Linked DNA regions of Homo sapiens. The protein of the gene in region 1 interacts with the protein of each later gene in a pairwise test. Each region holds a gene or a part of one and is shown on either strand. Other genes may lie near its edges. The genes, in order: CANX, ABCA1 and CHST15.

Region 1 (3,650 bases):
AATAGCTGGGACTACAGGCGCCTGCCACCATGCCCGGCTAACTTTTTTTATTTTTAGTAGAGACGGGGTTTCACCGTGTTAGCCAGGATGGTCTCGATCTCCTGACCTCATGATCTCCTCGGTGGCCTCCCAAAGTGCTGGGATTACAGGCGTGAGCCATCGCGCCCGGCCACTATTTTTTTTGAGATCGACTTTGCTTGTCACCCAGGTTGGAGTGCAATGGCATGATCTCGGCTCACTGCAACCTCTGCCTCCAGGTTCAAGTGGATCTCCTACCTCAGCCTCCGGAGTAGCCGGGATTACAGGTGCCCACCACCACGCCTGGCTAATTTTTGTATTTTTAGTGAAACGGGGTTTCACCATGTTGGCGAGGCTGATCTCGAACTCCTGACCTCAGGTGATCCACCCACCTTGGCCTCCCAAAGTGCTGGGATTATAGGCGTGAGCCACCTTGCTCGGCCAACAATTTTTTTTTTTTTTTGAGACTCAGTCTCGCTCTGTCGCCAGGCTGGAGTGCAGTGGCGCAATCTCGGCTCACTGCAACCTCTGCCTTCCGGGTTCAAGTGATTCTCCTGCTTCAGCCTCCCGAATAGGTGGGACTACAGGCGCCCGCCACCATGCCTGGCTAACTTTTTTATTTTAAGTAGAGACGGGGCTTCACTGTGTTGGCCAGGATGGTCTTGATCTCTTGACCTCGTGATCCACCCACCTCGGCCTCCCAAAGTGCTGGGATTACAGGCGTGAGCCACCATGCCTGGCCAACAATTTTTTTTTTTTTTTTTTTTTTGAGACAGAGTCTTGCTCTGTCACCCAGGCTGGAGTGCAGTGGCCCAATCTCGGCTCACTGTAAGCTCTGCCTTCCCAGGTTCACGCCATTCTCCTGCCTCAGCCTCCTGAGTAGCTGGGACTACAGGCACCTGCCACCATGCCCGGCTAATTTTTGTATTTTTAGTAGAGATGGGGTTTCACCATGTTAGCCAGGATGGTCTCGACCTCCTGACCTCGTGATCTGCCTGCTTCGGCCCCCCAAAGTGCTGGAATTACAGGCGTGAGCCACCGCACCTGGCCAACAATTTTTTTTTAAGAGACAGGATCTCGCTGGGTCTGGTGGCTCACGCCTGTAATCCCAACACTTTGGGAGGCCCAGGTGGGAGAATCGCTTGAATCTGGGAGGCAAAGGCTGCAGTGAACCGAGATCACACCACTGCACTCCAGCCTGGGCAACAGGGCCAGACCATATCAAATAAATAAATCAATAAACAAACAAACAAACAAACAGCTGAGCATGGTAGCGCATGCCTGTGGTCCCAGCTACTTGGAGGGGTGCTGAGGTAGGAGGATCACTTGAACCTATAAGGTCAAGGCTGCAGTGAACTGTGACTGTGCCACTGTACTCCAACCTGAGTGACAGAGTGGGACCTTGTCTTAAAAAATAAAAAAGAGAGAGAGAGAGAGACAGGGTCTCACTCTGTTGCTCAGCTGGAGTGCAGTGGCACTATCCTGGCTGACTACAGCCTTAAACTCCTGGGCTCAAGTGATTTTCCTGCTTCAACCTCCCAAAGTGCTAGGATTACAGGCTTGAGCCACCACGCCTGGCTAAAAACAATCCTTAACTTGACTGTAAAGGTTTAACAACATCGTAGGGTCTTGGCTTAAAGCAGATTTTCTGGACTCTGTTTCTTACCAAGTTTCTCTTCTCCTTCCTCCTCCTCATCTCCCTTGTCCTTTTCCTCTTCCTTCTCTTCTTCCTCTTCCTTCACATCCGGTTGAGGTGCATCAGTTTTCTTATACTCCATACCACTGGTCTGTTTCTGAAATGTTCCCCAAAGTACAATTTTGTTTACATGTTCATGTATTATGTTATATAATTCCTGAATGCCTACAGGCAAAGTTCTGTTCCAGGCTGTATACAGGGATAGATATACAGAAACGAATAGGATGTAATTCCTACCCTGAAGAGCGTGTATGTACGTGTGTGTATGCACATGTGCTTGTGTGTTTCAAGGTAGAACAATAAAAACAAAAGGGCCAGGCAGGAAAATAAAGGTCAAAAAAGTCAAGGTGACTGAGGCACCGATACACAGAATAGTGGCAGAGGCTGAGGCTGGAAAAGGAACTTGGGATCCAGTTACAAAGTGCTATGAATGCCAGATGAAGCATAATCCTCATTTAGCAGAAGTAGAGTCCAAAATAAGACTTTCTTTTTTTATGATAGCATGCAAAAAAAAAAAGGCTAAACAAGAAAAACTAACAATAAGGCTGTGGTACCCCAACATACTGTTTTGAGAGTGGGGAAGGTGAAGGCAGAATGGATAATGAGGAATCAAAGACTGAATTACAAAGAATAGAAATAGCTATGCCAGCAGGCAAAGCTGATTATTGCCCAAGTGGCTAGTTTGGTATCTAAGTTTATTGTTTTTTTTTAGAAAGTTGCTGCCGAACACTATGGAGAGTAACAGATTAGGATAAATAATAATAGCAACCAAGGGGCTATAAATCCTGCTCCCATCTGGGCACAATAAACGGCCACTGAGGAACAGTAAGTAAGGTTTCTGAAGTCAACACCAAACATGGCTTGGTCATTACTGAGCCACTACAAAGAAAACCTCAGGCAACATATCTTAGTTATTTTTAATAATCACTAGAGTGATGTCTCTAAAATTGATTCTAAAAAAAAAAACTTCCTACCTTTCCAGAACAGCAGAAGAGGATAACCAGGAACACAGGAAGGGCTACAGTTAGAATATAGACTACCCACAGCCACGGGCGCTCTTCAGCTGCCTCGATCATCTGCCCCACAACGCCTGGCTGAAAAACAAGACAGGGCTGATTGAAAGTTCCAGCTTTTGACACCAAACATAGGCCGTGCTGTTTTTCTGCAGTTCAGTTATGGCATGGCACTACGCAGGACCTTCTTTTTCAGAGAAAATGCTCATAAAATGTAAAAAAGAAATTAGAGAAAGCCTCCATCCTCTTGCTCTCCTTATAATCAAGATGATTTCACTCTCATAGGTGCAAAAGCTGGCTTCTACATCACCTGCAAAAGGCTCCCTTAACCTCAGGATCCAGTGAATTTCTTATCTCAGTATCCCTGGCTCTCCAATTCTTAAATCGGCCACATGACCAGTTGTTTGAAAATTCTGTATGTAGTGTAAACCGAGATTCAACATATAAGAGTGTATTAAAATATAGCCTAAATGACAAATTTCGAAATATATACCCAGACAAATAATAAAAAAAAAACCCTGAACACAAACAGACTCTAAAGCCACTACATTAGACTAATGAAATCATGCCCCAAAACCCAATATTGTGTCTTTTGCAGGCATATGGTTATACTTTTTATGCCAATATTGCCAAATGAAGAAAAAAAACCTTAACACAGACTTTCACAAAATAACAGCTCCTTACAATAACAGACACAAATGCACAAGCAGCAAACACGAACCTCAGCAGCCCCATCAGCAGCTTTCTTCAGGCCCCATCCATCATTGGCCCAATCATCAACTATTCTTCGATCAGCACAAATGATAAAGTTGTCAAAAAAAATGTCAGAGGTCATGGACCACAGCTCCAAACCAATAGCACTAAAAGGAGTCATTCTGAAAGGTTCCAGATCTTCAAAGAAATCTGGATTTGGTATTTTCCTG
Region 2 (3,650 bases), on another chromosome or scaffold:
ACATATTTGAGAATACACAATGGCAATTAGCATCTCAGCTTCTCACCCTATTATATTTTGGTAAAACGTGGACACATTTCAAATGATCTAAGTACTGATACTGTATGAAGTCAGGCAGTTATATATAATGTAAGAGCCATACACTCTTTGAGCAGGGGTGAGAGAACTGGAAAGTTTTCTGTTCCTAAAAATTTTCTAGAAATCCTTGTCCTAAACTAATGATACCTAACTGATGTGCTTTTACATCTTAACAATATTTGTTTGATGTCTTAGCTCTCCTCTCCATCTCAGTTAAACACACAAAGACACACTCATCCAAAATATCTAATTCTTTTTTTTTCTTTTTTGAGATGGAGTTTTCACTCTTGTTGCCCAGTCTGGAGTGCAATGGCGCAACCGTGGCTGACTGCAACCTCTGCCTCCTGGGTTCAAGCGATTCTCCTGCCTCAGCCTCCCAAGTAGCTGGGATGACAGGCATGTGCCACCACACTCGGCTAATTTTTTGTATTTAGTAGAGACGGGGTTTCACCTTGTTGGTCAGACTGGTCTCAAACTCCTGACCTCAGGTGATCTACCCACCTCAGCCTCTCAAAGCGCTGGGATTACTGGCATGAGCCACCATGCCCAGCCTCAAATATCTAAGTCTTAGGGTACAATTAACTCTAACAGCAAATTCCCCTTTCTGACTCTTTCAAAATCACTCATCTACTCGAATGAATATTTGTTCAACAATTAAACACCTAATGTATACAAGAAACTAGGACCCCGCAGAAAAGATAATAAATACATGGGTTCAGAGGATTGAGGCACCATCTTTATGTCTTTAAAGGAAGTGATATGGATAGGCTCTTTCAGGTTTGATCACATGCACGATGCTGCAAAGAACAAGTGGCTTTTACCATTTCCTCACTTCTCTTTGGACTCTGTAGGGATCTATCACCTTGGCTAAAGGCCATCCAAAGAAAACAGGTGAGAGCATGAGAGAGAATTTCACATTCAAACAGTAGGACACTGTTTGATCTTGCCCTAACAGACCTGGGTCTATGTCAGAATCATTTGGATCAGCAGCATCATCTTCAGTGAACGGGCGAAGACAGCTCTGCTTGTCCCCGAAGGCCCGCCTGTTTCGTCTTGCTGGCAAGGTACCATCTGAAGGCACAAGGAAAGAATCCCATACTTTATTTTATTTACAACAAAACAAACCTTCCCCATCTGCAACAAACCTACACTCTACAAATGAGAATGCAATAGAACAATTCAAAGGGAAAGGAACAATACTCGTGCACTGAGAAAGCCAGCAGAAGGCACTATCTTAAGTGTGCCATTCTCCCTCAAGGCAGTTACCTGAGGTCTCAGCATCCACCCCACTCTCTTCGGCCACCTTGAGGAATATCTGGAAAATGAGAGAGATGAGAACATTATAAGCACCAACATTACGAGAGTAGTCACCACTGCCACGATTATTATATTACTGAGTGGCATGTTAGCCCCGTAAGACAGAGAAAGTAGAAGCCACATTTCTTAATAACACTTTCTCAGAGTTACCTGGGAGAGAAGCCGTTTTTGCCAGAGAACATTTCCTCAGTGGTGAGAGCTATCAAGCTAGACAATCATTTTCAAATTAAAGTTATGGCTGAGCGCTGTGGCTCAGGCCTATAATCCCAGCACTTTGGGAGGCCGAGGCGGGCAGATCACCTGAGGTCTGGAGCTCGAGACCAGCCTGACCAACATGGATAAAACCCATCTCTACTAAAAATACAAAATTAGCTGGGCGTGGTAGCACATGCTTGTAATCTCAGCTACTTGGGAGGCTGAGGCAGGAGAATCGCTTGAACCTGGGAGGTGGAGGTTGCAGTGAGCCAAAATCGCACCACTGCACTCCAGCTTGGGCAATAAGAGCAAAACTCCAGTCTCATCAAAAATAAAAAAAAATTTAAAAAAAGCTATGACAGACACTGCGCAGAAGAAATTTATTCTGAACCTACAGGGAATGAGTCAAGTGGCTTCTTTCAGGACTGTGGCTCTAAATCTTTGAGTAGGCTAGTACTATGATAAGTTATCCAAGACAGAATGAGCAGGAGGAAATAGAGCACTAGAAATATGATGGCAGCAATTCAAACATCAGAAGAGAATCTGAATGAGCGCAATCATTTCCAAACTCTAGTCTATAGACCACTGTGTCCAAAGTATGCAATAGAAATACAGACTTCAAGGCCTCACCTCCAGAAATTCTGATTCACAGGCCCTGAAGCCAAACCTTAGTATGTTTATTTTTAATAATATCCCCAGGTGATTCTGCTGCACTGTCAAGCTTGGAGACCACTTGGCCAGACAGCTTTTATATCCCCTTCAGCCTTCAAGGTCTGTGATGTTGTATCTCTAAGGGGAGGCATTACATGGATAAAGAGAGGATGGACTTTGAAGCCCCAAACCCCTGATTCTGAATCTCATGTCAGCATTCCTGAGTGTTCATTTTTTCATCTTTTTTTGAGAATTAAATGAGGTCACAGTGATTAAAAAAAAATCAAAAAACAAAAAACAAATCTCAGCACCTGGCACAAGTAGACTATCCATCCATAAACGTTTGTCATTTCCTATGTATGAGAATCCAGTTGATACCTGGCTGTGACACAGTCACACCAGAGAATTGCTCCTGATTCTGATTCAGTAGGTCTGAGCTGGGCCCAAGTTGCTGAATTTCTAACAAGTTCCCAAGTGATCCTGATGCCGCTGTTCCTCACACTGTACTTAAGTAAAGAGGCTCATTAAAGGGTAAATAAGTGCATAGGAGTTTAAGGTTGGGATGTAAATGTGTTAGGTACCACTGGTTTCAACACACAAATCTCAGGCATGTACTGTGGTACAGAGGAAAACACTTCTTTCCTGCTATCTCCCACTACCATCTTAAATGGCTCACTGGGGCCAACATTAATCAGATGTCGATGACCTAAAAACTCAATGACTAACTCCATGATAATCCTGCTCCCAATGCAGGCTACTGGTCTGGCCTTAGGACATTTGGCCTTGCTATATATTCCGACAGTCAGCCACTTAACTTACTTCTTCCAGGGTCGTCTCTGAGATGCCATAACTAGAAATGCCCAGGTCTGAGAGCCGGTCATCAATCTCATGAAAGAGTTCCACAAAGGCTCCCTCCTTAGCAGCTTCATATGGCAGCACATAGGTCAGCTCATGCCCTATGTCTTCCACCAGCCGGGCTTCAGACACATGCTTCCTGATGAGGTTGGAGATAGCAGAGACATCTGCAGGGACCAGAATGCAAAGATGGCTCAATCAACTCAGAGGGGCTTCGGAGTGAGGGCTGGCCATCCCCCACCCTCTCATCAGAGGCCTGCCGCTCATACACCACACCTGTTCCAGGTGTTTAGGTCATTCCACATGTTCATCTCTGGTCTGAGGGTTGGGGGCAAAGGAAAGGACTATGTCTTATTCACCTTTGTATCACCAAAGCCAGGCACATTATAGGTACTCAGTGTAGAATGGGTGGACAGCTGGATGGGTGGATGGGTGAATGGGAGGATGGGAGGATGGAAGGATGGGTGGGTGGGTGGGTGGATGGGTGAATGGATAACTGAGGCTCAAAGTCTGGTGTCTATTGCCTAAGCTCTGGGATTCTTCAAAAGAAAACT
Region 3 (3,650 bases), on another chromosome or scaffold:
GGGTAGTATGTGGCTGAAGGTCTGGGAGCGTTTGGAAGTATGGATGGCGGCTGGGCGTGGTGGCTCACGCCCGTAATCCCAGCACTTTGGGAGGCTGAGGTGGGTGGATCACCTGAGGTCTGGAGTTCGAGACCAGCCTGGCCAACACAGTGAAACCCTGTCCCTACTAAAAATACAAAAAATCAGCTGGGTGTGATGGCAGGCGCCTATAATTCCAGCTACTCAGGAGGCTGAAGCAGGAGAATTGCTTGAACCCGGGAGGCGGAGGTTGCAGTGAGCCGAGATTGCGCCATTCCACTCCAACCTGGGCAACAAAAGCGAAACTCCGCTTCAAAAAAAAAAAAAACGAAGACGGAAATATGGATGTCAGATACCTGGATGCATGGGTGCAGAATGAGAGTCACAGAATTGCCTTCCCTGGAAAGAGGGGAAGCCAGGTTGGAGAAGTTGAAGGAATAGAAAGTATAGAGCTTTGAGGAGAGAGAAGTGTGACCCTGTGGAGCCACGTAGGCCATGTTTTTCATAAGCCCAGTTTCACCCTTGGCCCAGAGATGCAGGTGTGTGTGCAAGAAGAGAGTGGGACATATGGCAGGAAGGTTGAAAACAGACAAAAAGGGCTGCAAGGAGAGATAGAGGAGAAAAAAGAGTAGGAAACTCACACCCTGAATGTTCTGTTGAAGATAAAAACACCTCTTTTTTTTTTTTTTGAGAGAGGTTCTCACTCCCATTGCCCAGGCTGGAGTGCAATGGCATGATCACGGCTCACTGCAGCCTCAACTTCCTGGGCTCAGGTCATTCTCCCACCTCAGTCTCCAGAATAGCTGGACTACAGGCACGCACCACCACGCCTGGCTAATTTTTTGTATTTTTAGTAGAGACAAGGTTTCACTATGTTGCCTGGGCTGGACTTGAACTCCTAGGTTCAAGTGATCCTCCCACCTCGGCCTCCTAAAGTGCTGGGATTACAGGCATGAGCCACTGTGCCTGGCCCTGACATTTATTAAAATGGCAATGCAGGCCTTCTTCAGGACCATTGTGGTAGGTATAGGGACTGCCATGACAGTTTTTCAGTAGAGGAGAGAGACTCCGAATACAACTAGGAAAAGTAGGGATTTTAAAGCCGAGGCAGGTGGATCAGTTGAGGCAGGAGTTCAGGACCAGCCTGGCCAACATGGTGAAACCCCATCTCTACGAAAAATACAAAAAAATTAGCCAGGTTTGGTGGGCAGGCGCCTGTAGTCCCAACTACTCGGGAGGCTGAAGCAGGAGAATCGCTTGAACCCAGGAGGCGGACGTTGCAGTGAGCTGAGATCACGCCACTGTACTCCAGCCTGGGGGACAGAGTGAAACTCTGTCTCAAAAAAAAAAAAAAAAAAAAAAAGAAATGCCAAGGAGCAGGGCGAGGGGGTTGGTGGCTAGAAAATTACTAAGGGGAAACATCAAGGGGGAAGGGGTGGGGATTCTGGCTAAACCAACCCGATGGGATTCTTGCTGGAGACAGGCCAGGTGGCCAGGCATCTCCTGGGGGTGGTGGACTAGGAACCTGATCAGATAAGAAGGGTGGTCAGTTAACCAAGGGTGGGGGATTCTGGCTAAACCAGCATAGCAGTGTCAACAAACAATATTTTGACAAATTTAGTTTAGAGATCTCACTGGTGTTTATTAGCACGGTCCATGAACAGGGCAGCATCCCATTCCTGTAATACGAAGGTGCTCCTGTGGGCCCAGCCAGGTTCTGGCTTTATAGGCAGAAACGGGCTGAAGAAGCAAAAACAGGCAACGGAGAGTGGATTGTTCATTTCAGAGTGACTTTCCTTCTAGGGTTAAAGCAAAGGGGACGTCTGACTGGTTGCTGTGTATCCCCTGGTTTTTTGGAAACTGGCCCATTCCGAGTTCAGTTCAATTACGTGGCACCTAGCACAGATGACTCTGTTCTGGCCTGTGGGGGCCTATTGCAGAAGCTCAGTCCAGAACAGTAGCCTCTCATACATTTTATTTAACAGCAGGATTCTTGCTAAAATAGGGTGGTGCAGAGATGGACCTGGAGGTAAAAAAGTTAAGGTCTAGTTGGGAGGAGGATACAGAGGAGCCTGAAGTGGGTCAAGGAAGACGATCAGTTCCCGTGCGGCAGCATTCTGCCATACGTGTGTGTGGTGTCTAGGAACAGATCTGTGTCCACGGGTAAACGTGTAAGTCTGCAGGTATTCCTGTGCATATGTGGGGGTGCTTTTACATCGTGTTAAAAACAAGGTCCCTACCAACCTAGAAAGATACATCTCATCATTTTTTTTTCAATGTCAGGAATGCGTATGCAAAGTAGTGGGAATTTCATGCGGAATTGTAATATTGTGAGAGCAACAGATGCTCTTATTTTTGTTCCCTTCAGTAGAGGAGAGAGGAATGAGAAGGTGCATAAAATTTTCATGGCTTCTCTTTGCTAGTGTACCATTTTTGTAATCTGGTATTGTTTGAAGCTCCCTGTTACTGTGAAAACAGAGGCTGCCTGAGATGATAGAACAAGCAACACCATAAAAGCGGCTGGTGGTTTGTGTGGGGCCAGTATAGACATGTCTGGGTCTGGAAGAGCTTAGGTGGCCACGAGAAGGGCGGGAGCTCGGAGGGATGAGGGAGGTGGCTCATCTGCAAGGGAAAGAAGAAGGGTGGTTGTGCTTCAATCAGGAAAACTAGATAATGTAATTGTACACTGATTTTCATTGTCGCCCAAATGGTGTGATTGCATGTTCATGGGTGGTAAAAATATGCATTTATTTTATTCACAGGTTGTACTCAGACTATCTCTACTTTGCAAGTTCGAATAAATCCGCGGACGACTTCCATGAGAAAGTGACAGAAGCACTGCAGCTGTTTGAAAATTGCATGCTTGATTATTCACTGCGCGCCTGCGTCTACAACAACACCCTCAACAACGCCATGCCTGTGTGTACCCCCCCCCCCCGTACCCCCCGAGCTGGCCCCTGGCAGAAGGAGCTGGTTTGTTGTTATTATGCAAGCGGCATTGTGGGTTTGCGTTTCAGCATAGGAACAGAGAGAAGCGTTTTAATGTGCAAATGCTGTTCCCCATTATTCATGGATGTAAAAGCTGAAAACTGATGGGCTCTTGGTCTGGCTCCTGCCTTCCTCCCTGCTGGTCACCTGCCACCTCCCCCTCCTCCCTCAGCAGGAGGATGAGGGTGCCTTTAGGAAGATTACCATTTAGCAAGACACCCAGCAATTAGAATCGGCAGACATGAGGACACCCAACTCTCAAATTGTCTTAAGAGCATTCTCTTGAGCGGTGGATTGTTTTGTTGGTTTAAAAAACTACCCATCAATGATTTTCAATGCTTCTTTGACAGAGTCTCAATTGAAAAACATTTTCTGTTGATTCCTCAATCGTATCTCTTGTTCTTCCTTCAGAACTATGTCTGTAAATTTCTAGCCTTTTTGAATGCAAAAAGCTGTTATTGGTGAATTCAGCACCTTTTAGCCCCGGGATAGTTTTCCATGCTGGGCTCCCTGGGCTGGCTGTGTACTTCAACAGCAGGGCTTATGCAGCGAGCATTGCCGCTGCGTGTTCCAGAGTGGCTTTACAAGCCTTGCTCTGCTCAGCGTCTCGCATAGCAAGGCACCAACAGGCCTGCTGTGGAGTC

What was found.
Region 2: the proteins of CANX (region 1) and ABCA1 interact in binary tests that used the Homo sapiens proteins (3 or more experiments, as listed by UniProt).
Region 3: the proteins of CANX (region 1) and CHST15 interact in binary tests that used the Homo sapiens proteins (3 or more experiments, as listed by UniProt).

What each region holds. Positions count from the first base shown.
Region 1 is NC_000005.10:179,722,818-179,726,467, reverse strand, and holds part of CANX (calnexin isoform d precursor), read right to left. Parts: coding exon 3,449-3,650; intron 2,809-3,448; coding exon 2,689-2,808; intron 1,812-2,688; coding exon 1,685-1,811; intron 1-1,684. UniProt on the Homo sapiens protein: Calcium-binding protein that interacts with newly synthesized monoglucosylated glycoproteins in the endoplasmic reticulum. It may act in assisting protein assembly and/or in the retention within the ER of unassembled protein subunits.
Region 2 is NC_000009.12:104,813,083-104,816,732, forward strand, and holds part of ABCA1 (phospholipid-transporting ATPase ABCA1), read right to left. Parts: intron 3,264-3,650; coding exon 3,061-3,263; intron 1,394-3,060; coding exon 1,345-1,393; intron 1,150-1,344; coding exon 1,036-1,149; intron 1-1,035. UniProt on the Homo sapiens protein: Catalyzes the translocation of specific phospholipids from the cytoplasmic to the extracellular/lumenal leaflet of membrane coupled to the hydrolysis of ATP.
Region 3 is NC_000010.11:124,020,543-124,024,192, reverse strand, and holds part of CHST15 (carbohydrate sulfotransferase 15), read left to right. Parts: intron 1-2,780; coding exon 2,781-2,937; coding exon of another isoform or gene 2,938-3,111; exon of another isoform or gene 3,112-3,650. UniProt on the Homo sapiens protein: Sulfotransferase that transfers sulfate from 3'-phosphoadenosine 5'-phosphosulfate (PAPS) to the C-6 hydroxyl group of the GalNAc 4-sulfate residue of chondroitin sulfate A and forms chondroitin sulfate E containing GlcA-GalNAc(4,6-SO(4)) repeating units.